Linked DNA regions of Homo sapiens. The protein of the gene in region 3 interacts with the protein of the main gene of each other region in a pairwise test. Each region holds a gene or a part of one and is shown on either strand. Other genes may lie near its edges.

The links.
Region 1: the proteins of TRIM5 (region 3) and MPP7 interact in binary tests that used the Homo sapiens proteins (3 or more experiments, as listed by UniProt).
Region 2: the proteins of TRIM5 (region 3) and MTURN interact in binary tests that used the Homo sapiens proteins (3 or more experiments, as listed by UniProt).

The regions. Positions count from the first base shown.
Region 1 is NC_000010.11:28,299,614-28,307,210, reverse strand, and holds the start of MPP7 (MAGUK p55 subfamily member 7), read left to right. Parts: upstream 1-4,146; 5' UTR 4,147-4,350; intron 4,351-7,597. UniProt on the Homo sapiens protein: Acts as an important adapter that promotes epithelial cell polarity and tight junction formation via its interaction with DLG1. Involved in the assembly of protein complexes at sites of cell-cell contact.
Region 2 is NC_000007.14:30,130,428-30,138,349, forward strand, and holds the start of MTURN (maturin), read left to right. Parts: upstream 1-4,558; 5' UTR 4,559-4,709; coding exon 4,710-4,871; intron 4,872-7,922. UniProt on the Homo sapiens protein: Promotes megakaryocyte differentiation by enhancing ERK and JNK signaling as well as up-regulating RUNX1 and FLI1 expression. Represses NF-kappa-B transcriptional activity by inhibiting phosphorylation of RELA at 'Ser-536'.
Region 3 is NC_000011.10:5,674,837-5,682,459, reverse strand, and holds part of TRIM5 (tripartite motif-containing protein 5), read left to right. Parts: intron 1-2,221; 5' UTR 2,222-2,282; coding exon 2,283-2,699; intron 2,700-3,290; coding exon 3,291-3,386; intron 3,387-4,025; coding exon 4,026-4,256; intron 4,257-7,623.

The DNA.
Region 1 (7,597 bases), on a different chromosome or scaffold from region 3:
GTTTACTATAAACAGCAGGTGAAGACTTTCAGTAACTAGAAAGGAAGCCTCATTGACTGGCGATTGAAAATGTCAGGGGTGCAATGAATGCGTGTCTGGTAATCTGCCCAGTGTGTCTTCTCTGGGAAACCTCTGCTCATAAACAGGGATGGGCCCTGGCAGCCATACTGGTCCCCTGCAGCCCCCATCATCTATGATTAGGGTTAGGGTTAGGCAGGTGATTTAGTCCTTGTGGGTGCAGCTCTGGAACATCATTTCTCTGACACTGGGACATAGGAGCCAGGGGCTGGTTATCAGAATAGGAGAATAGAGCACAGGTGTAGAGAGAGCACCTGCTATGGAAAAAAATTCCATTGAGTTCCTCCTGGCTTTTCAGGTCTGCGATCTGGGTCTTCCTGAGGACTAACTTATTTTTGCCTTTGGGTTCTATTATACATCTATCTAATCTATCAATCAACGATCTATTATCTATCTATCAACTATCTATTATCTATCATCTATCTATCAACTATCTATTATCTATCATCTCTCTCTCTCTCTCTATCTATCTATCATCTATTTTAGAGACAGGGTCTTACTCTGTTGCCCAGGCTGGAACGCAGTGGCAAAATCTCTGTTCACTGCAGCCTAGAACTCCTGGCCTCAAGCAATCCTCCCACCTCAGCCTCCCGAGTAGCTAGGACTACAGCTGCACACCACCAAACCTGGCTAATTTTTAAATTTTTTGTAAAGATGTCTTGCTATGTTGCTCAGGCTGGTGTTGATTTCCTGGCCTCAAGTAATCTTTCCACCTTGGCCTCCAAAGTTGTTGAGATTATGGGCATGGGCTACTGTATGCAGCCTCTTCTGTCTATCTAATGAATTTCTGTCCTCTATTAGGGTGAAGAGATAGCTTTTCAGTGGCTTTGAAGCATTGTGCCAAATATTTCAAAGATCACATTTTAAAATCTACTTTTTGATTTATTTAGTTGCTGCAAATTTTGACTTATCTGTCACTAATCAGCTGGATGTACTGAGATACTTTGACATTTCCTAATGTCTGGTGCTTTCTCTTTCTGGCCCTCCATAGTGAGGGCTGGATCTCTTCCCTTATAGGTATCTGCTAATGCTGGAGGCTCAACTGATAAAGTAAAGATAGCCATCCCAAGAAGCAGGCGGAAAGGCTGGGGCTAATAGAACAGATCTCTACTCCAGGGGCTTCAATTCTGCCCTAGTTCTGGTCAAATAGGATTAATACTGCTCACCGTTACTATCCTAAAAGGGCTGTCATGGTTGAAAGTGGGCATTTACTATTTTCAGTGTCTTTTGTTGCTGGAATAAAGGAGATGATAATATGAAACAAAAATCAGGTTGCTTCTCCTCATATTTTGCTCAGCTCCCAAGCATTCAGAATGTCGTTACTAATTAGACATTTGTTTCAACATTCTGGGGCCATCCAGGCTAGGCAATCTTGTGATGTGGGGAAAGTTGACTGGTTATGCAATGGCTTTGCATTAGATCCCCTGCTCCCTTGCAGGCGCTGAATGCTCTTCTGTTGTTCTCTGGATCTAGAACCCTGTCCCTTTTCTCTGGGATGGCTCCTACTGATGTTTCAGCTTATTCCTCATTTGCTGCAGGACAGTCTCCTTGGCCCCATAGTACTCTTGATTTCCCCATCACCTGTGCAGTAATAGTTTCTCTATAGATCCACCAGTCTTGTCTTATTCATTGTTATATCCACAGATCTAACCTATTTCTAGTAAACAGTAGGTTCTTCCTAGATCCATTCCTGATGATTGGCTTAATGAATGAATGCTCATTTTACTGGTGACTCTGAAAAAGGAAAAAAAAAAATAATGATTTTACTCCACTATCAGCAACTCGATGTTGCCCGTCAGGAATCCTTGTAACAAAATACAAAGTTACCATTGCCTACGAGGTCCTCACCTCCTTCTCCAACCTGTCTAGTAGCACTCTCCTTATGCACCATGATACCCATGCTGGCTTTCTCTCTGTTCCTGCTATACATCACTTTTCTTCCTACTTCAAGTCCTTTGTTCTTGCTATTTTATCTGCCCTGGAGTTTTGCTAAGTTGGTGTTTTCTTATTTAGGTGGTGCCTCAAATCTTAGAGCATTTCTCTTAGATCATTTCTCCTTAAAGCATTTTTCTCCTTTCCCAAAATTAAGTGTGTCTCCCATCCCTCTGGTCACTGTTTTCTTCTTTGCCCTGATCCCGGTCTGGAAGTTTATCTTTTTATTGGATCATTGTCCATCTTCTGATAAAAACAGCTGCAAGTCTGTCTTGTTCAAGGCTATACTCTGAGTGCTTAGTAGAAAGCCTCGTTCATTGCAGTATCTAGTATTTGATGATTAATATTGATTACGTTTGATGAGTAAATGAATAAAAGAATAATCTTAGACATACATTATTTAATCCCAGTGAAAGAATGTTAGTGATGGAATTTCAGGTGTTATTGTAGAAGAAACTTTTGAAGGGTATTCCCTACAGTTTGTTCATACTAGGCTAAGTTCCTCTTCTTTTCCTTACACAATGTAAAAATATTAGATCTCAAAACTATTTGCTCAAAGTACTTACTTTAGGACACGTATTTTTAGACTACAGTTTAGAATTACAGTTATTATTAGAAAGGTTTGGTAAAAACTCTTTTTGTTAGGCAATAAGGTTATTCTGTCCTCCAAAGACCTTTACTTTATTCTCAGGAAGTAAGAGAGAAAAAAGAATTTCTTGTCTTCTTTCTATCAGGTGTTTTGCCCTTACTTCTCTTTAAGTTTATGTTTACCTTAACATTCCTTTCCTTCCTCAGGTTTGCTTTTTGTCTATCTCCATTTTTCACTATTACGTAATTCACGGAGTTGCTGGGGGGAAGTGCTTAATTTCAAATAGCCTGTTTTAGAACTTTGCGAGAATGACAAGAACAAACAGAATGTTAAGGCAGCTAGAGAGAGTTAAGTGAGAGTGGTCCCTAGGTGAGAAATGCTTCTTGCCTTCTAGGCTGACACCAGTTCTGGGGGATGTGTTCTGAGAGCTCATATTAACTGCAGGTCATTGATCCTTATCTCAATCCCCTTCCTCTCCCTTCAGCTTTCCATTCAAAGTCTCTATCACATCTTGAAGTGTTGTCACATTATTTTTTTTCTGATGATTCCCTCCATCAGCTGAGCTTTCCAATTTATATTACCTGATTTTTTTTTGTCTTCTGCTTTTTACTACCCCTTTTTCTAAAGCTTTATTGATTGTGTACTTTGGATTCTAATTCTTCCTATAAGAGTCTTCCTGTAATTCTGTTTGCAGTGTAGTGCTGTCCACATTATGTGTTGGTTACATGATAGGAAGGAGTATGGGGGCACCTCGGTCACATATGTAAAGTTCTTTAAGAGAGCTGAAGGGCGCTGATACCAGTTCATGTTTTTTCGGGGTAGCCCTCAGATATTAAGCATGTTTACTGTATTTTCTTCTATTGTGAAAGAATCAGTTCTCTGGATTTCCTTAAAGTTTGTCTTTACCATTCTCCGCACCCTACTCATTTTTCTATTTAAGAATTTTTTTTTCTAATCATGTAGTACATGTTCAATATGGAACACAAAAAGGTAATAAGAAAAAGTCACCTACAGTGTCGCCAAAGGTGAAAACACCTTATGTCTTTTTTCGTGCATAACAATATCCCTCTCAATCTTATGCAGCATTTTTAAACCTAGGAGACTTGTCTGAATCCAAAGGAAGTTAAAGATTACGTTATTCACCAAGTTCATACTGAAATCAGAGAATCGCAGCGGCTTAAGAAAACTCGCATCTGGCGAATGAACCTGCGTATCCGGGGTTCTCCTCAGGGAGGTTGCTCGTCCATGAAACACACTCCAGTCTGCAGCCACCTGGGAGTGGGAACCAAGGGCGAGCGAACCGGGCGGGCAGGGGTGGAACTTGCGGGGACTGCGGGTATGAGGAGGAGCTACAGAGCTGTCACCAATCAGAGCCCAGCTTTGTTTTCTCTTGCCGACCAATGAGGGAGTTCTGCTGGAGAGGCGTCTTCAAGTCTGAGACGCCTATCGCCTTCGCAGCCTATCAGCAGGCCCCTCTTACCCGCGGGCGGTGCAGCCCCGCCCCGCCCCTCCAACCGCGGTCCCGCCCCTCCGAGGGTGGGGGCCGTGTTGGTTACTAGCCGGGCTGGAGGCGGGGGCCGGGCTCCCACTGGGCTCGTGCGTTCTGCGCCCGCCGCGGCGGTGCCGAGCCCGCTGGCTCCCGATTGTCCTCTGCGGCGGTGGCGGTCGCTGCCTCCTTGCCTCCGGGCCCGGGGCTGCAGGGGCCAGAGCGAGTGCGCCTCCTGCCCGCGGACCGCGGCAGCCCAGAGCAGGTAATGGGGCGCCTCTGGGGAGCGCCTGTCGGAGCCCAGGGCTAGGCTCGGGCGGTGGGGTCGGCCCCCGAAGCTGCTCCCTGCGCCGGCGACCGGGCCGAGCGGTGCCGCGGTCCTCCGGAGCCTCCTGCCGGCCTCTAGGCGCCTCAGCCTGGGAGCCCGCGGCGGGCACCTTGTGAGGAGGTGGGGGCGGGGCCGGGGCAGGGGCGGGGCCGCCTCGGGCGGGACCCTGAGGACCCCTGGAGACCCCTGTTGACGCGCGGGACTCCGGGCGGGGGCGGCGGCGGGGCAGACCCAGAGCGGGGAGAACCGACAGGTGGAGGAAAAACTGCGGAGTTGAGTCAGAGTCCGGCTCCCCGGGGAAAAGAACCGACTGAAAGGGAGCGATAAGCTGGCTGGCTTCTTTTTTTTCTTTCCCTAAGCCAGAAAGGCGTCTTCACTTGGGTCGTGTTAATTACATGTTTTCTGAGAACAGGCGTTTGGCCGTGTAATCTACACGATAGCATTATTTATTTACTTATTTGCTATTTAAAAAATTAAAAGCAGCATTTAGCGTGAATCTATTTGGGGGCTTTTTCTTAAGTGACAGGTAGACCCAGCCGAGTAACTCAGCTTTGTCTGGGCTGAAGTGGGGAGCGGTGAGGTAGGAATGAGGGGGAGGAGTGTTCGTGAGGAATGCCTGTGCAGGTTTGAAAGGATTGTGGGGGTGGGACCTTGTTTCTGTCACTGTGCCATGGGTGGGAGTAGAATTGTGATTTTTTTCTTTTTCTAATTTTTAAAAGCAATATTCACATTTAAAAAAGGGGGGGCTCTCTAAAAACAGTCTCTGTACTCGAGGCTTTGGGGATGCACCTGCTAGTCAGGCAGTAATAGTTTGCAGGTAAATCCTGGGCTATTAATTACGTAATTTGATTTACTTATAAAGAAGTATCTTGAATTGTTGCTGCCTTTCCTTTGACTTGCTCAATATATTGCTTGTTTACAAGTGAATTGATGAAGGTCACTGAGTTTTAGCGGTAATGTCACAGCGATGGCCCTTGGAGAGTTTTCTATGCTCAGGTTCACTCTGGTTCTATAAAAACAGTATTTCCATTTAATCGTGAAGCTCATAGCACTCTATCAATTATATAGTATGCCATCCTCCTACTCTTCTGAGGCAGGCTGTGCATAGCATGTCCATTTTACAGGTATGTCAACTGAAAGCCCTAGAAATGAAAGGAATCCTGCCCCACTTTACTCCTACTTTATTTTATACCTATAATGGATTTAATCCAAAATCTGGGTAAGATTCCCGCCATCAAGCCAACTTCTGCATACCAATTTGATCCCGTATACACAGGTCAGAGGTGGAGATGGTTATTTTCAAGTAAAGAAATATTATCTGCGAGGTTTTTCTTTCCATTCAGGTTGCTTAGCTAGTTTGAATTTCAGGTGAAAGGTAATTTTCCACACAGGCAAAACAAACAAAAGTTAGGAATGCTGTGTGAAAATCTCTATTTTAAATTTTGGGAAGCTTTCCAAATTAGAGAACCTTATTTGTGTTTGCATCTCTAGCTCAGCATTGAATTTCGGTACCTTTTTTTGAATTGAATAGAAATAATTGATATGCAGAAGGAAAATACTAATGAAGTGTAATGCATTTTGATCATGACTTATGACTTTGTTTCGGGAAGTGTTTACTGTAAATTTATAGACGGATTGAAGAATAATTTCTTAATTAGAATAACTTGACCAAAGGAGTTTGGGCATTAGTGTGGGACAGGCTGAAATGGGTAGTTGGGAGTAGCCGCTTGTATGATGTTAAGGCTTAGGGAATTCTAGAGAATCGTTAGGTTTTGTTAAATTTACTAGTTATCAGGAACATGAAAATGTCTTATGGATTACTGAATGGAACTCTTTTTTTTTTTTTTTCTGAGGTGGAGTCTCACTCTGTTGTCCAGGCTGGAGTGCTGTGGCTCACTGTGATCTCTGCCTCCCTGGTTCAAGTGATTCTCCTGCCTCAGCCTCTTGAGTAGCTGGGACTACAGGCGCATGCCACCACGCCCAGCTATTTTTTTTTTTTTAATATTTTTGTAGAGATGGGGTTTCACTATGTTGGCCAGGCTGGTCTCGAACTCCTGACCTCAAGTGATCTGCCTGCCTTGGCCTCCCAAAGTGCTGGGATTACAGGCGTGAGCCATTGCACCCAGCCTGAATGTAACTGTTCTAATCATGAAGTTATCTCTTGTTTTGTGGCTAATACCTCTGTTTCACATGTACATTTTAACATATTCATGTAACATATAAGGCAACTCTTCTTACACAAGGCTGTCACTCTAGCCCAGCATTTATTTACTTATTTATGTTTTAGTGGCTTTATTTAACTTTTACTCTCCTGTCAAAATTTCTAGCACCCAAGCAAAAATTTCCATAAAGGAACTTTTATCATCTGTTGATTATACAGAAAATGAATCATTTATTCTCATAAGCCCAGCCCTCTTGCATTGTGGGACACTGGAAAGATATTTTGGCTGTTTGTAAAGTATTTGCTTGTATTCTTACCTGAAGCTTTGACTTCTCCCCCTCCCCCAATGGTTTTCAGAGTTTCTGTGACTTTTTTCTTTAAATTAATTATGACACTACCTGACTTCCACTAGATGGTGCACTGGGGGGCGCTTACTGGAGATTTCAAACAGATTTTTGTTTTTCCTTGTTATAAACATTTCACTGACAAAGATACAAAGGTACTGCAGCTGTTTCTCTCCTAATTGCAATTCAGACAAAATTGTAATGAATGACTTAAGTCTTGAGTTTTGGCCAGGCATGGTGGCTCACGCCTGTAATCCCAGCACTTTGGGAGGCCGAGGCGGGCGGATCACAAGGTCAGGAGATTGAGACCATCCTGGCTAACACGGTGAAACCCTGTCTCTACTAAAAAATAGAAAAAATTAGCCGGGCGTGGTGGTGGGCGCCTGTAATCCCAGCTACTCGGGAGGCTGAGGCAGGAGAATTGGCCTGAACCCAAGAGGCAGAGCTTGCAGTAAGCTGAGATCGTGCCACTGCACTCCAGCCTGGGCCACAGAGCGAGACTCCGTCTCAAAAAAAAAAAAAAAAAGTCTTGAATTTTGTTAAATGAGATACATTCGGAAGGAAAGGGTATTCCTTCATTTTGAATTTAAAGTGAAGGAAATTGTTAGTCAGGCTTGCTCTCTGAAGATACTGTGTTTTTTACAAACTGAAGGTTCGTTGGCAACCCTGCAAGTCGATT
Region 2 (7,922 bases), on a different chromosome or scaffold from region 3:
ATTGAAGAAGACAGAATATTGAAGTGTTCAAATGAATAAAGAAGCTAAAAACTAAATCATAAGTATTTCTGTTTCTTTGATATATATAAAAGGAAAATGTTTACCAGGTGAATGTGATCAGCTAGGCATGTTTTGAAGGCAATTGTAGCCAAAATGTAACCCCAACTCGCTCAAATTCTACATCCAAACCTTTCAGAGGAATGTCCAAAAAAGAAATAATTTTGTAAAAACTAAGTTTGGAAGATTCAGAAACAAAATTCAGAATGAATTTTGTAGGAAGGCTGAAGGAAATCCTTTTCCAGAGCTTTACTGGGCAGTTGGGGTAAATCACAATGACTCATTTATATAGATCTTCAACTTTTCGCTGATCTTCCAACTTGATTTTCTTTCAGACTCTAGTTGCAGTGACACATAAACTATGGCGCAGGCTTAACTCATGTCTGCCCTCTACTTATCCTCCCCGCCCCACTGCTGGGCTCACTGTTCTGGAGCACAGTGCAGGGAGAAGACAGCTCTCATCCCTCCTGTGTTGCTCTCCTGGGAGTTACTTCTCCAGATCCTATGGTCTTTTCACCTCTCCCATCACAACTGTGACAAATCAAACACCTCTCTCCTGACCACCGTCTCCTGGAACCTGGGGTCTACAGTCCCTCTTGATACAATGAGACGACCTTGCGTTCAGGTGAAGGGTGAATGTGGAACCAGCTACGCTTCCCTCTCTGCCTACCTCCTCCTACTGCATAACCACAAGGCTATGTGGATGGAGCAGATTTATCAAAAACTAGGGCTAATTTAACGGACTTACAATATAGGAGTGAATCAAAGGTCAAATTATATGTTAACATCAAACTTACACTAGAATAAAAGCCATGGAGAACTTCAAAACAGAGATGGGCAGAAGAGTCAGCATTAGCAGGACAGTCTAGGGTGGCCTTTGCATTCCATACTGAGCTCCTGATGTCCTAGCCAGTGGGGTTTGAATATGTCTCCTCTTCTTGCCAACACACATCTCCCAAAGGCAAATGGTGATTTTCAGAGACAGCAAAGTCCAGATTTCTATAAATGAACAGAAACGTTCCTTAAATACAATGAAGACTGTACAACTCTGCCTACTGGTGGGGATAAGTTTTTTTGTCTGTTTGTTTTGTTTTTTGAGATAGGGTTTCCCTCTGTCACCTAGGCTGGAGGGCAGTGGTGTGATCATGGCTCACTGCAGCCTCGACTTCGAGGGCTCAAGGGATTCTCCCACCTCAGCCTCCCAAGTAGCTGGGACTACAGGCACATGCCACCATGCCCAGCTAATTTTTGTATTTTTAGTAGAGACAGGTTTTCACCATGTTGCCCAGGCTGGTCTCAAACTCCTGGGCTCGGTGATCCACCCACCTTGGCCTCCCAAAGTGGTGGGATTACAGGTGTGAGCCACCACGCCTGGCTGGGGAGAAGTTTTAATTTTCCTTCTACTTCCAAACCATGGCCAAAGGCTATGGGAACACAAGAAAGGGGGTATGGGTAGCCCTGGTGTTTCCTCACCTACTGGCTGCACAAAACACCTGGCTAGAGTTCTGAAATGACCACTGCCCTGTGCATGAGGCCTAAATACACCCCTACAACCTGGGATGCCTCACAGGACTCTCCCCAAACAGGAGGGAGGCAGGGCAAAGGTTTATGATCTTCTTAGCTAAGCAACTGGTGGCTTTACCAGTTGTTCTAAGGAAACAAAATTTCAAGCAACTTCTGCAGATGAACTTTCCAGGATGAATTTCAGCTGCTTTATGTGCATACCCTTTCCACTAGTTAGTAAAAATGACCAAAACACGACTGTTGCAAGACTTTTCTCTCTAAATCTGTGGTTCTCAAGTAGGGGTAATTTTGCACTCAGGGGACATTTGGCAATGTCTGGAGAAATTTTTGCTTGTCACAGTGGAGAGAGGGGAGGGTAGAGGGAGATGCTACAGGCATCCAGTGGGTGGAGGCCAGGGAATGTGGCTAAAAATCCTGCAATGTGCAGGACAGCCTCCAACAACAAAGAATTTTTGGCTTCAAATATCAATAGTGCTGCTGCTGAGAAACCCTGCTCTAAAGACTTGGAAAAAAAAATGAGATTTAGGTTCATCTGTGACCAATATTACCAGTCATATCACTCCTGAATTTCACTTTAAAAATTCATTAGCTGATCTTCTTACACATCATCCCTAAGAAGTAGATTAAGAGTAATAATGGCATTTACTGAGTTCTTACTATGTGCTAGGTTCTGGGATAAGGACTTTATATACTTTATCTCACTGTTGTCCCTGTTTTCAGAAAAGAAAACTGAGCTCCGAGCAATGAAGGAAGTTGCAGATGCACATAAAACTTAAAATGGCAGAGGGAGGAATCAATGCAGACATGGAGTTCTGAAGCTTTTGCTGTTGCTCTCAGTGCATTTCTAAGGAAACCCAACGGTATCCATTTCATTGACCAATTGCTTTGTACCCAAAATTTTATTTTTCATAAGAGTTTTTCATTTTCTGACAAAAACTATTTGTTAAATAAACATAACTTCATAATTCTGATCACATCACTTGGAGCAAATTTGACTGATACATTTTAAAACACATGGATTAAAAAAAAAACTCCTTCTTTCCCGAAAAAGGAAAAAAGGAATGTATTTTTCATATTTTCATCTCCAATTTAAGGAATTCATTTTTGGAACACATATTATGCTTTAAATGGTGGTGCCAGGTAAAACTGCAAGGAAGCTTGTGCTATCTGGAGACACCCATACTTTTTTTTTTTAAGGACCATTTTGTAACTTTACAACAGCATATTGCATTTTTATATTCATGTGCCTGTCTCCTTCATTGTCCTGTGTATTAGTTTTCTACTGCTGCATGAAGAATTTAAACAGACCTAACAGCTTAAAACAACACCCATTTAATAGCCCACAGTTCTGAAAGTCGGAAGTCCCAGCACAGCCATGGCATCACTGGGTTCTCGCTCAGGTTCTGCGAAGGCTGCAATCATGGTAATAGTCAGGCTCAGTTCTTGTCTGGAAAAGACAACAAGTTTGAGAAAAAAATCTGCTTTTCAAGCTCATTCGGGTTGTTGGCAGAATTCAGTTCCTTGCAACATTGGCCTAGGCAAATAATTTATGACTAAAACCCCAAAGGAAGTGCAACAAAAACAAGAATAGACAAATGGGCCTTAATTAAACTAAAAAGCTTCTGCACAGTAAAAGAAACAATCAACAGAGTAAATAGACAACCTACAGAATGAGAGAAAATATTTGCAAACTACGCATCTGACAAAGGACTAATATCCAGAATCTACAAGGAACTCAAACAACTCAACAAGAAAAAAAAAAAACCCATTAAAAAGTGGGCAAAGGACATGAACAGATATTTCTCAAAAAAGACATACAAGTGGCCAACGAACATATGAAAAAATGCTCAACATCCACTAATTATCAGAGAAATGCACATTAAAACCACAATGAGATACAATCTCACACCAGTCAAAATGGCTATGATTAAAAAGTCAAAAAACAGCAGATGTTGGTGAGGGTGCAGAGAAAAGGAAACATATATACGTGTTGGTGGGAATGTAAATTCGTGCACAGTGCCTGGTTCAGAAGACACACTTTACAGAAAAAAGCTGGCTGAATGTTTATAACGTGTCTGTGTTTGTAGTGTTCAAGTCCTGAGGGCGAGGACCCTAGTGCATTTTCTGCAATCCAGTAATGCCTGTCCAGTATATGGCAGCCAGTGAGCACTCAACAGGTGCAATCGTTGGGCCACACACTCTTGTTTTAAAATGTGCTTTATCCTCTTGACCTTTTTAGGTTATGCAATGTGAATTCAAGCTGAATAATACTGAAGCCAGTCTTATGAGGCTCATTTCTAAGAAATATTCAGCTTTACGTAACGCAAATAAAAAATCACACACGCCCTTTGCAAGTGAACATTCATATTAGTGTCTGATAAATGCATTAAGAAGACACATTCCCTTAAATCAATCGGAGAACAGAACTTTGGTTTCTGCAAAAAGAAAAGCTCCCTTTTCCTTAGATTTTCTCAGCTCCTCCACTGCTAGCCCCAGACAAGGTCCAAGTTATCTGCAGTTCTATGGCCTCCCTTGCATTTAAATCGCATTTGGGCAAACGCTTCCTGGGCTTTCTAACTCCACAGAAACGCTAACCAGGTATTGGGCGCTCGCACCGCTTCCAGGTAACCCGCGGAGCTGCGGATTCCAGGCTCGCGCTGTGACGTCACCGGGCTCGCAAGCCGCGGCGCGGTCTCAGGCTCCGGTGATTGGCTGGGGCCCATGACGTCACGGCCCGGGGCGGCACCGCGATGGCCAGGGCCCCGGGATGCTCCGGGTTTGTTTAAAAATAAAGGGGGGGCGGGAGCGCCCAGGAAAATCCGGGCGCCCGCGGGGGTGCCGGCCGCTCCTCCCGCCGCCCCGCGTCCCGGCCCGGCCGCGCCAACCCCCACGGCGGCCCGCAAGGGGGCGGGGGGAGGCGGGGCGGAGGAGGAGCCGCGGGCGCGGCGCCGCGCTGTCCCCGGCCGCCGCCCGCCCCACTCCGCACCGCATGTAAACAGTCCCAGCCGGCCCAGCCCGGCCCCGGAGGAGCCCGCGCAGGCCGAGCCGAGCGCCGCGCTGCCCGCCCGGGAGGAGGGCGCCTAGGAGCGGGAGGGCGGGCGGCGGCGGGAGGCGGGCGCGGGGCCGCGATGGATTTCCAGCAGCTGGCCGACGTTGCGGAGAAATGGTGCTCCAACACGCCCTTCGAGCTCATCGCCACCGAGGAGACCGAACGCAGGATGGATTTCTACGCCGACCCCGGCGTCTCCTTCTATGTGCTGTGTCCGGACAACGGCTGCGGCGACAATTTTGTGAGTGCCTGGAGGAGGGACCGCCGGAGCCGGCGGGAGTGTGGACGCGGCGGTGCGTCCCTGCGCCCGAGCTCCCGCGCGGTGGGCGGCGGTGGGCGCAGAGTGGGGGGCCGTAACCCGCGCCCCGCGCCCCGCGTGCTCCGCCGGGGAAGCCCCGGGCCGGGCGGTGCGGGCTCCGCTGCCCGGGTGGGGCCCGGTGGGCGGCGGGCAAGGCGCCCGGAGGATCCGGGGAGCCGGGTCGGGGCGGGAGGTGTGGCGTCCCCCTAAAGGCCACTCCTCTCCCCGCTGCTGCGGGCGCCGTTTCGGGAACCCGACCTCGCGGCCCGTGCGCGGTGCCTGGCATGGAGCATCCCTGGGGTGTGGGTGTCACCCGCGTCGGACCAGCCGGGTCTGGGGCGCACGGACCCTCCGGCAGGAGCCCAGGTCCGGAGCTTCCCACATCCAGGCGTCCCGTCCGGGATAGGAATCCCGCTCCCCTCCGGTGCCCAGCCTCGGCTCCTCGCATTGCCCCTCCCGGGAGAACCCCACTCCCCGCCCTCGCGGGTTAGTCCTTGCACTGCCTGTTTGGACACAAAGCTCTGTCCATACTAGCGATGCCCGATCTCCTGGACCTTCTTTGCGGAATTACACCCCGGATCTTAATACGCACGCGCGCCTGCGCATACACCCCAACACACACACACACATGCTCACACCCTCACCCTCACACGCGCACACTCACGCGCACACGCGGCACGCCTCTCCCCCTGCCCCCGCGCTGCCCTCGCTGCCTCTCTGAGCTGCCCGAGAGGTGTGTGTGGCCCGGGCGGGTTCTCTCCAGCCGAGGCGGTGCCCTGGCCCTGCTGAAGCCCGTTGGCTTTTCCAGATGACGGGGAATCCCCTCAGCCCCGGCTCAGAGGGACCGGGAACTGGGACTGCGGTGTCCAAACCTTCCACTTTGAATCCTGCACCCACCTGGGATCCCGACTCTGGCAGTTGAGGAAGGGGATGCGGAGGGCAGGGGAGTCGGGGTGGGAGGGGTGGAGTAGGGCGAGCACGGTGCTCATGAAGTGTTTCCAAGGTCGGGGAATAAATAATGATCCCCAAATGTAAGATGGAGGCGGCCGTGGGCGCGGGTGACCGTGTGGTCGCGGGCCTTGTGGGCGGAGGTGGGGTGGTGCGGGGCGCGGCCTGGTGCACGCTCCTCAGGTGGGGGAGACAAAGCTGGGCCGTGGTCCTGCCGCCGAGCGCCCTGACCACCTACGGGAAGTTCGCGAAGGAGTTAGGGAGACTGCAAGACCGCCTTTCTTGGTCCTGGAGAGGTGAAGGCTTATGTATGCCTGGCCGATAAAGCATTCCCTCCGCCCACACGCACCCCCTGAGGAGGGCAGGGATCCACCTGGGCATTCCACAAGTGGCACTCCAGAAGAGGGATGGCCTTGTGTGACAGCCAGATTTGAGTTCTGGCTCTGTGACTGTGCTCAAATACCCACCCTGAGCTCAGTTTCCACATCCAAAAAAATAGGTATAATAATGCCAGCACCCAGGCGTTCATATAGGTAACGCACCGAATAGTCCCTAACACACAGCAAGAGCCCCACAAATTTGGGGTTAGAGACCTGGGGTTTCCCAGAATTTAGAGCTTGTCTCATTTTTTAAAGAGCCTTGGTTTTCCCACCTGTAAAATGGGGCTAATCAGAATACCTCCAGAAGAGCCAACTGAACAATAATATTAATGCCTGTAAGCCCATCTTAACTGTAGGTAAAGTAAGTAAATAAGTGTTCTTTTTGGAAGGAGTGGGAGATCATTAAAAAGGGATTCACTCCATTGCAAAAGTGTGAGAAAGCCCCCAGGATACAGTGGAAAGGGCACCAGAATCCAGCTGACTGTAAAATGTTAGGGTTTGGCTAGGGTCCCTTCCAGCTCTGGGCTTCCTTCATCTGCCAGCGCCCTTTCTCCCTCCTGACCGTGTGAAACAGGGCAAGAATGGCTCATGGTTCTGGATTTCACTGGGGAGAAGCCCACACAGCCTTCCTGCTGGGACCGCCCAGGCCATACCCAAAGAAATGACTCCAAAGACAGTAAGTGGGCCAGGAAGACAAAAGGCTGTTCTCTTGCCATGAATATGTGTATCCAACCATCGTTCAGAAGTAAGAAGTATTATATTATTTGTATCAGGCCTTTCTCTTGAGGCCACCCAGATTTTAAATATTTTCCCATCTGCATGAGAAAAATGCTTGAAAGTGTCATGTAAACTGACAATTTAAATAGAATAGATAGAAAGATAGAGGATGGGGGTGGGCAGATGATTCCTTGGGTAGAATGGAACTTTCTCCAAGTTCTGGAGGCTCTAATGGACAAGATGCCAACCTCGGGAGTTTTCCTAGCCGGACCTCTTGAATCTGTCCCAGGCCAGGTTTGTCAAGCTACTGTTTGCCTCTAATAAGTGTCCTGCCTTAGTTCTTTTCTTTTTCCCTGGAAAATGTATTAAGCATTAGACAAAAGTGTGAGATCAATGGAATTTCTATTAGTTGAAGGACTTAGCAATAAGAATGTCTACATGAGCATTTCTCAATTTACAAAAGTATTTCCACATCATTCATTCATTCATTCAACAAACATTTATTGAGGGTTTACTTTGTGCCAGGCCAGTGCTATCTAGAATACAAATAGGGTCTCTGCCTTCATGTTCCTGGGGCAATTTTTACTTGTCTAGGAAGCAGTGTGGTGTGGTGGTTAAGCACACAGGCTGTAGATCAGACTACTTGGGTTTGCACCTCAGCTCCCCGTATTTGTGTGCCTTGGGAAAGTTATTTAACCCCTCTATGCCATACTTTTTTTTTCTTTTTCTTTTTTTGAGACAGTCTTGCTCTGTCGCCCAGGCTGGAGTGTAGTGGCGTAATCTTGGCTCACTGCACCCTCTGCCTCCCGGGTTCAAGTGATTCTTGTGCGTCAGCCTCTCCAGTAGCTGGGATTAAAGGCGTGCACCCCACGCCCAGCTAATTTTTCTATTTTTCGTAGAGACAGGGTTTTGTTACGTTACTTAGGCTGGTCTCGAACTCCTGGGCTCA
Region 3 (7,623 bases):
TCTGTTTGCCTCTACTAGGGCACCAAGTCCAGACTCAGGGAACTACTGGATTTTCTTAAAAATCATTAACCTTGCTCCTCCCTCTCCGTGGGCCGTATCTGCCCCCCAAAAGCAGAGCTTAGGTGAGATACGAAGAGCAGGAGAAGCATGTGGAAAGAATACCCAAGTAGCTGGGATTACAGGCACCTGTCACCAAGCTCAGCTCATTTTGTATTTTTAGTAGAGACAGAATTTCACCATGTTGGCCAGGCTGGTCTTGAACTCCCAGCCTCAGGTGATCCGCCTGCCTTGGCCTCCCAAAGTACTAGGATTACAAGCGTGAGCCACCACACCCGTCTGGTTAAGTTAAATATTAAAAGCTGAAGCCGGGCACGGTGGCTCACGCCTGTAATCCCAGCACTTTAGGAGGCCGAGGCAGGTGGATCACAAGGTCAGGAGTTGGAGACCAGACTGGCCAATATGGTGAAACCCCATCTGTACCAAAAATACAAAAATTAGCCGGGTGTGGTGGTGCGTGCCTGTGGTCCCAGCTGCTCGGGAGGCTGGGGCAGAGGAGTCACTGGAACCTGGGAGGCAGAGGTTGTGGTGAGCCGAGATTGTGCCATTGCACTCCAGCCTGGGCGACAGAGCAAGACTCCGTCTCAAAAAAGAAAAAAAAATATTAAAAGCTGATAGAGCCAGTGCCCTTATACAAAGGCTGGAATGTAACAGAAGCCCACTGAGAGTTTTGCCCAGGCCTTTCCTGGGCCTTGAAGCATGACAAGATAACGAAGGAATCGATTAGGACCTGTTTAGGATTAAACAAGTTTTATGGGGGTCTGAAGGAACTCCCAGGCCTCCACAAACAAGTTTATTGAGGGTCTGAAGGAACTCCGCAAACCTTAATGATTTAGCAGGAGAGACAAGATAAGGGTAATCACCCCAGCACCCGGACCCATCTAGATTAGGTAAATTTACTGAGGCACCAGAGGAAGGTCTTAAAACTCAGACCTTAGTTATAGATTTGAAGAAGTTAATCACTTATGTTTTTAGATGAATAATGCACACCTATACGTAGACGTATAGCTTAGAAGGTATATAAGCTCTGGAAAACTTTGTAATTTTGAGTTGGTCTGGAGATATTTTCTAGGCCTTCTCCCTGTACGCAGAAATAAAAATTCGCTTCTTTCCCAGTAAATCTGCATCTCGTTATTGGGCCGCAAGAAGCAGCAGCCGACCCTCCGTTTGTTCCGGGAACAGAATCATCTCATCTAATATTTTGAGACTTCTCTCTCAAGACTGATATCCACTGCCTCTGTGCTTCTAGTTTTCAAGTATCCAACATGTGTGGTCCACTGAGTATTTCTCTATCATCACCCTCTACACCATGTCTACACCTTTAGGCTCCAATAAATGTCCTTGGCAAACTTTCAGGATGAGACTCCTCAGAACCTCCCAGCTGTTGTGGATTCCTCTACTTCCACACCCCAATTGCTCTGGGTATTAATTGGATATATGCTGTTATCTCCATTTGTCATTGATTAACCAAAAGAGTAGCAAAGAGGCCAGTGAAAGAGGACCCTGAATACGAGGTCATCTCAGGTCACCATACTGAAGATAAATAATTTTTGTAAATCACTTATTATGTCTATTTATACATTTGATGAAACAGTCATTCACTCTGCTGATAATAAGAGCAATCATTGCAAACGTACAGTGCATGGTGAGATTTGTTACACTGCACATAAGGTAGTCAGAGCAGGTATTTTTGATAATATAACATGTAAGGAGAGAATTTAATAAAATCGTACTAACATCAGAGAAACATTTCATGCTGAGAGAAGAGCAAATGTGAAAGCCCTGAGGCATAAGCTGTTTGGTGATTTTAATACTGAGGATGTGTTTTGGCGTGGGAAAGAAAAGCCAGGAGAGATGATGGGTCACACAAAGATCTTGGTAGAAAAGACCTCAGTCTGTTTTCTATTCATTGAAAGTAAAGAAAAATGATAACCAATGCACAGATAAGAACAGAATTTGTCATATGACATGAACTGGCAGTAAAGTATTTAAGGTGATTATGAAAAGCCCTTATTACCAGGTAACCAAACACCTTTTCTTATTTCTCCCCTTTTTTTGTCCTTAATTATTTTCATCTTGCCCATTTTCTAATTGTGCACAATCAATATCCTTTCTATTTCTACCTTTCTTACTTGGTCCCATTTTAACCTTCCCAATCATGCAGGGATCTGTGAACAAGAGGAACCTCAGCAGCCAGGACAGGCAGGAGCAGTGGAATAGCTACTATGGCTTCTGGAATCCTGGTTAATGTAAAGGAGGAGGTGACCTGCCCCATCTGCCTGGAACTCCTGACACAACCCCTGAGCCTGGACTGCGGCCACAGCTTCTGCCAAGCATGCCTCACTGCAAACCACAAGAAGTCCATGCTAGACAAAGGAGAGAGTAGCTGCCCTGTGTGCCGGATCAGTTACCAGCCTGAGAACATACGGCCTAATCGGCATGTAGCCAACATAGTGGAGAAGCTCAGGGAGGTCAAGTTGAGCCCAGAGGGGCAGAAAGTTGATCATTGTGCACGCCATGGAGAGAAACTTCTACTCTTCTGTCAGGAGGACGGGAAGGTCATTTGCTGGCTTTGTGAGCGGTCTCAGGAGCACCGTGGTCACCACACGTTCCTCACAGAGGAGGTTGCCCGGGAGTACCAAGTAAGAGACTGGGATGGAAGGAAGAGAGGGCAGAAAATGGGACCAGATGGAAAATTTTCACTTTGCCTTTGACATTAACTGCCTTGTCATGATAGACCTGAGACCCGGGATTATTTTTTTCATGCTATGCTTAACTTCTGAGGCTTTAAGGATGGTTTTTTGCATTTCACCCAATTACAGGAGAATAATCCTAGAGTATATATTCCTGGCCGGGAGTAAATATTTTGTACCTTGGGTTAGATGGGTAGAGATTTGGTGTCCAAGAAAAGCTCTGATTACCCCTTTCAGCAGGAGAGTAACAGGAGTGGGTTGAGATGTAAGTTTTTTCCTTGCTGCAGGATTAGTTTTTTCTTCTAGGACAAAAAGAATCAGTCTACTCATGGTGAGGAGATGGGGAGGTCTATTACCTGAGATGTAGGGAGCACATTCACCAATGTAAGTTTTCTTCCAAGTCATGGATTCTCATTGCCATTCTCACAGTTTCTGCAAATTTGTTTCTTCTGAGATCAACCTGATTTATTTCATGTTTATACTCTATCTAGGTGCTGGAAAACCTCATAGCTTGACTATGGTGTGATTCCTTTCTCACAGGTGAAGCTCCAGGCAGCTCTGGAGATGCTGAGGCAGAAGCAGCAGGAAGCTGAAGAGTTAGAAGCTGACATCAGAGAAGAGAAAGCTTCCTGGAAGGCAAGAGGATGTGGTTCCCGAAGGAGTTAGCTAGAAATCTGGGCAGGACCAGGGGAAGGAGCTTTCTTCCTCTTTATTCCCTGACATTTGATAAGTCCAGAAGTCATTTGATTAGTCCTCTTCATCCTTTCCCTGATGGGGTGTGGTGGCTGAGGAGTGAATATGTCACAGTGAACACAGTAGGGAGCTCTTTACATGAAGGATCTCTCTGGTGAGGATGGCTAGTGAATCCTGCATTCTATTTTTGTGCTACTTTTTGAGTCCGTGACTCTACTTGGGGAAGACATTTGGCAATGGCTCATGATTCTGTCCTCAGTGTTCAACTTTTGGCAGGGAGTTTGAGCTTGGGCTGAGAAGTAATACAGGCAGGCATGAGTGTCCTGCATAGCTGTGTGAAAGGTAAGCTACATCCAGGTAACCCATTTTGATGCAGGATGAACCTCAATATACCCATTCAAGGTCATTGTTTTAAAATGTCATGAAGGAAAAGAAATAGGAAAAGGCAGCTTTCCTAAGACCTACTCTCCTGCTACTATGTCCCCTCCTTGTGAGAACTCCCCAAAAGAAACAGCTCCTTTTCTGGCTAACAGCCTCTGCCTGGTAGACTGAGTGCCCCTTTCTCTTCTCTTATCTCTGAAGACTCAAATACAGTATGACAAAACCAACGTCTTGGCAGATTTTGAGCAACTGAGAGACATCCTGGACTGGGAGGAGAGCAATGAGCTGCAAAACCTGGAGAAGGAGGAGGAAGACATTCTGAAAAGCCTTACGAACTCTGAAACTGAGATGGTGCAGCAGACCCAGTCCCTGAGAGAGCTCATCTCAGATCTGGAGCATCGGCTGCAGGGGTCAGTGATGGAGCTGCTTCAGGTAAAAAGTGGAAAGAAGCCTGAGCACTGAGATTAAAGAAAAGTGAAGGCTATTTCCTTCTCTGCGTTGCTGTGCTTTTTCTAATATTAACAATGTTCTCTGCAGGACCGCTTTTCTGAATCAATTGCTGAAGTTATAAGAATAATTGAATGTAGAAGTAGCAAGAGATAATCCCATTTTTATTAATTTATCCAGAGCAGTAGAAAAATTTGACGTAGTGGAGATGATCAATTAGCTCTAGTCATGTTTGATAGGTTCCTATTCTCTGTATTCTAGTGTTGAGACTTACCAGTGCAGCTTTTCATTGCTCAGCTTAGCCACTGGCAAACAAATACACGTCAAAATACAAGATGCTTTTTATTTTTTTCCTTCATGGAATTAATTGAGACTTTTTCCTTTTTTTTTAATTTTCTGAAAAGAATTAAATAACTGCTATCATTTCTTCTTTATATGCTCAATAGAATTCACTAGTAAAGGCTGGGCGCGGTGGCTCACGCCTGTAATCCCAGCACTTTGGGAGGCCCAGGAGGGCCAGTCATGAGGTCAGGAGGCCCAGGCGGGCCAGTCATGAGGTCAGGCGATTGAGACCATCCTGGCTAACACGGTGAAACCCCGTCTCTACTAAAAATACAAAAAATTCTAGATCCCTGAGGAATCGCCACACTGACTTCCACAATGGTTGAACTAGTTTACAGTCCCACCAACAGTGTAAAAGTGTTCCTATTTCTCCACATCCTCTCCAGCACCTGTTGTTTCCAGACTTTTTAATGATTGCCATTCTAACTGGTGTGAGATGGTATCTCATTGTGGTTTTGATTTGCATTTCTCTGATGGCCAGTGATGATGAGCATTTTTTCATGTGCTTTTTGGCTGCATAAATGTCTTCTTTTGAGAAGTGTCTGTTCATGTCCTTCGCCCACTTTTTGATGGGGTTGTTTGTTTTTTTCTTGTAAATTTGTTTGAGTTCATTGTAGATTCCGGATATTAGCCCTTTGTCAGATGAGTGGGTTGTGAAAATTTTCTCCCATTTTGTAGGTTGCCTGTTCACTTTGATGGTAGTTTCTTTTGCTGTGCAGAAGCTCTTTAGTTTAATTAGATCCCATTTGTCAATTTTGTCTTTTGTTGCCATTGCTTTTGGTGTTTTAGACATGAAGTCCTTGTCCATGCCTATGTCCTGAATGGTACTGCCTAGGTTTTCTTCTAGGGTTTTTGTGGTTTTAGGTCTAACGTTTAAGTCTTTAATCCATCTTGAATTGATTTTTGTATAAGGTGTAAGGAAGGGATCCAGTTTCAGCTTTCTACATATGGCTAGCCAGTTTTCCCAGCACCATTTATTAAATAGGGAATCCTTTCCCCATTGCTTGTTTTTCTCAGGTTTGTCAAAGATCAGATAGTTGTAGATATGCGTCGTTATTTCTGAGGGCTCTGTTCTGTTCCATTGATCTATATCTCTGTTTTGGTACCAGTACCATGCTGTTTTGGTTACTGTAGCCTTGTAGTATAGTTTGAAGTCAGGTAGTGTGATGCCTCCAGCTTTGTTCTTTTGGCTTAGGATTGCCTTGGTGATGCGGGCTCTTTTTTGGTTCCATATGAACTTTAAAGTAGTTTTTTCCAATTCTGTGAAGTCATTGTTAGCTTGATGGGGATGGCATTGAATCTGTAAATTACCTTGGGCAGTATGGCCATTTTCACGATATTGATTCTTCCTACCCATGAGCATGGAATGTTCTTCCATTTGTTTGTATCCTCTTTTATTTCCTTGAGTAGTGGTTTGTAGTTCTCCTTGAAGAAGTCCTTCACGTCCCTTGTAAGTTGGATTCCTAGGTATTTTATTCTCTTTGAAGCAATTGTGAATGGGAGTTCACTCATGATTTGGCTCTCTGTTTGTCTGTTGTTGGTGTATAAGAATGCTTGTGATTTTTGTACATTGATTTTGTATCCTGAGACTTTGCTGAAGTATACCATTTGACCCAGCCATCCCATTACTGGGTATATACCCAAAGGACTATAAATCATGCTGCTATAAAGACACATGCACACGTATGTTTATTGTGGCATTATTCACAATAGCAAAGACTTGGAACCAACCCAAATGTCCAACAATGATAGACTGGATTAAGAAAATGTGGCACGTATACACCATGGAATACTATGCAGCCATAAAAAATGATGAGTTCATGTCCTTTGTAGGGACATGGATGAAATTGGAAATCATCATTCTCAGTAAACTATCGCAAGAACAAAAAATCAAACACCGCATATTCTCACTCATAGGTGGGAATTGAACAATGAGATCACATGGACACAGGAAGGGGAATATCACACTCTGGGGACTATGGTGGGGTGGGGGGAGGGGGGAGGGATAGCACTGGGAGATATACCTAATGCTAGATGACGAGTTAGTGGGTGCAGCGCACCAGCATGGCACATGTATACATATGTAACTAACCTGCACAATGTGCACATGTACTCTAAAACTTAAAGTATAATAAAACAAAAACAAAAACAAAAAAAACACAACAGAAGAAAAAAAAAAAAAAAGAAATGCAAGAAAGCTAGCACCCCCAGGGGCATCCTTCAACCAATGGGGTTGGGAGTTGATGGAGAAATGCCTCAGCTCTCAGTGTTTCGGGCAGAGATTCTGGGGCATTCCCAGGAGGTTTGGTGGGATCATGATCCCATAATGCCCAGAAACAACCCCAACAGCTTACTCATACATTGGCTTCTCCTCCTCCCTGTCTTACCTCCCTGCTCCCTCATTCCTGCTTCCTGGGGTCAGGTAAATCACCTGGACCCAGGTCCTTGTCTCAGGCTCTACGTTCAGTGTTTCTCATGCTGTATTCCTCGGAACCCCAGGGCACCTTAGGATGTGTCTACCCCTCTCTCACCTGCATTTGATTTAATGCTCTGTTGTCATCATCTTGAAATGTTTAATAAATTTTGAACAAGGGGCCGCATATTTTCATTTTGCATTGTACCCCACAAATGAAAAAAAATAATACAAAAAATTAGCCAGGCGTGGTGGCGGGCACCTGTAATCCCAGCTACTTGGGAGGCTGAGGCAGGAGAATAGTGTGAACCCGGGAGGCGGAGCTTGCAGTGAGCCAAGACTGCACCACTGCACTCCAGCCTGGGCAACAGTGCGAGACTCCATCTCAAAAAAAAAAGAAAACTGCTCTTATCCCAATTTTCAAGAATACAATACATTGTTAACTATAATTGCCACATTCTGCAATAGATCTCTTGAAGATAGTCATCTTTTCATTCTGAAGTTGGTGTCCTTTTACCAATATCGGCCTCAACTCTCCCTACACCCCAGCTCCTGGAAACCCCTCTTCCACTCTCTACTTTTATGAGCTCAACTATT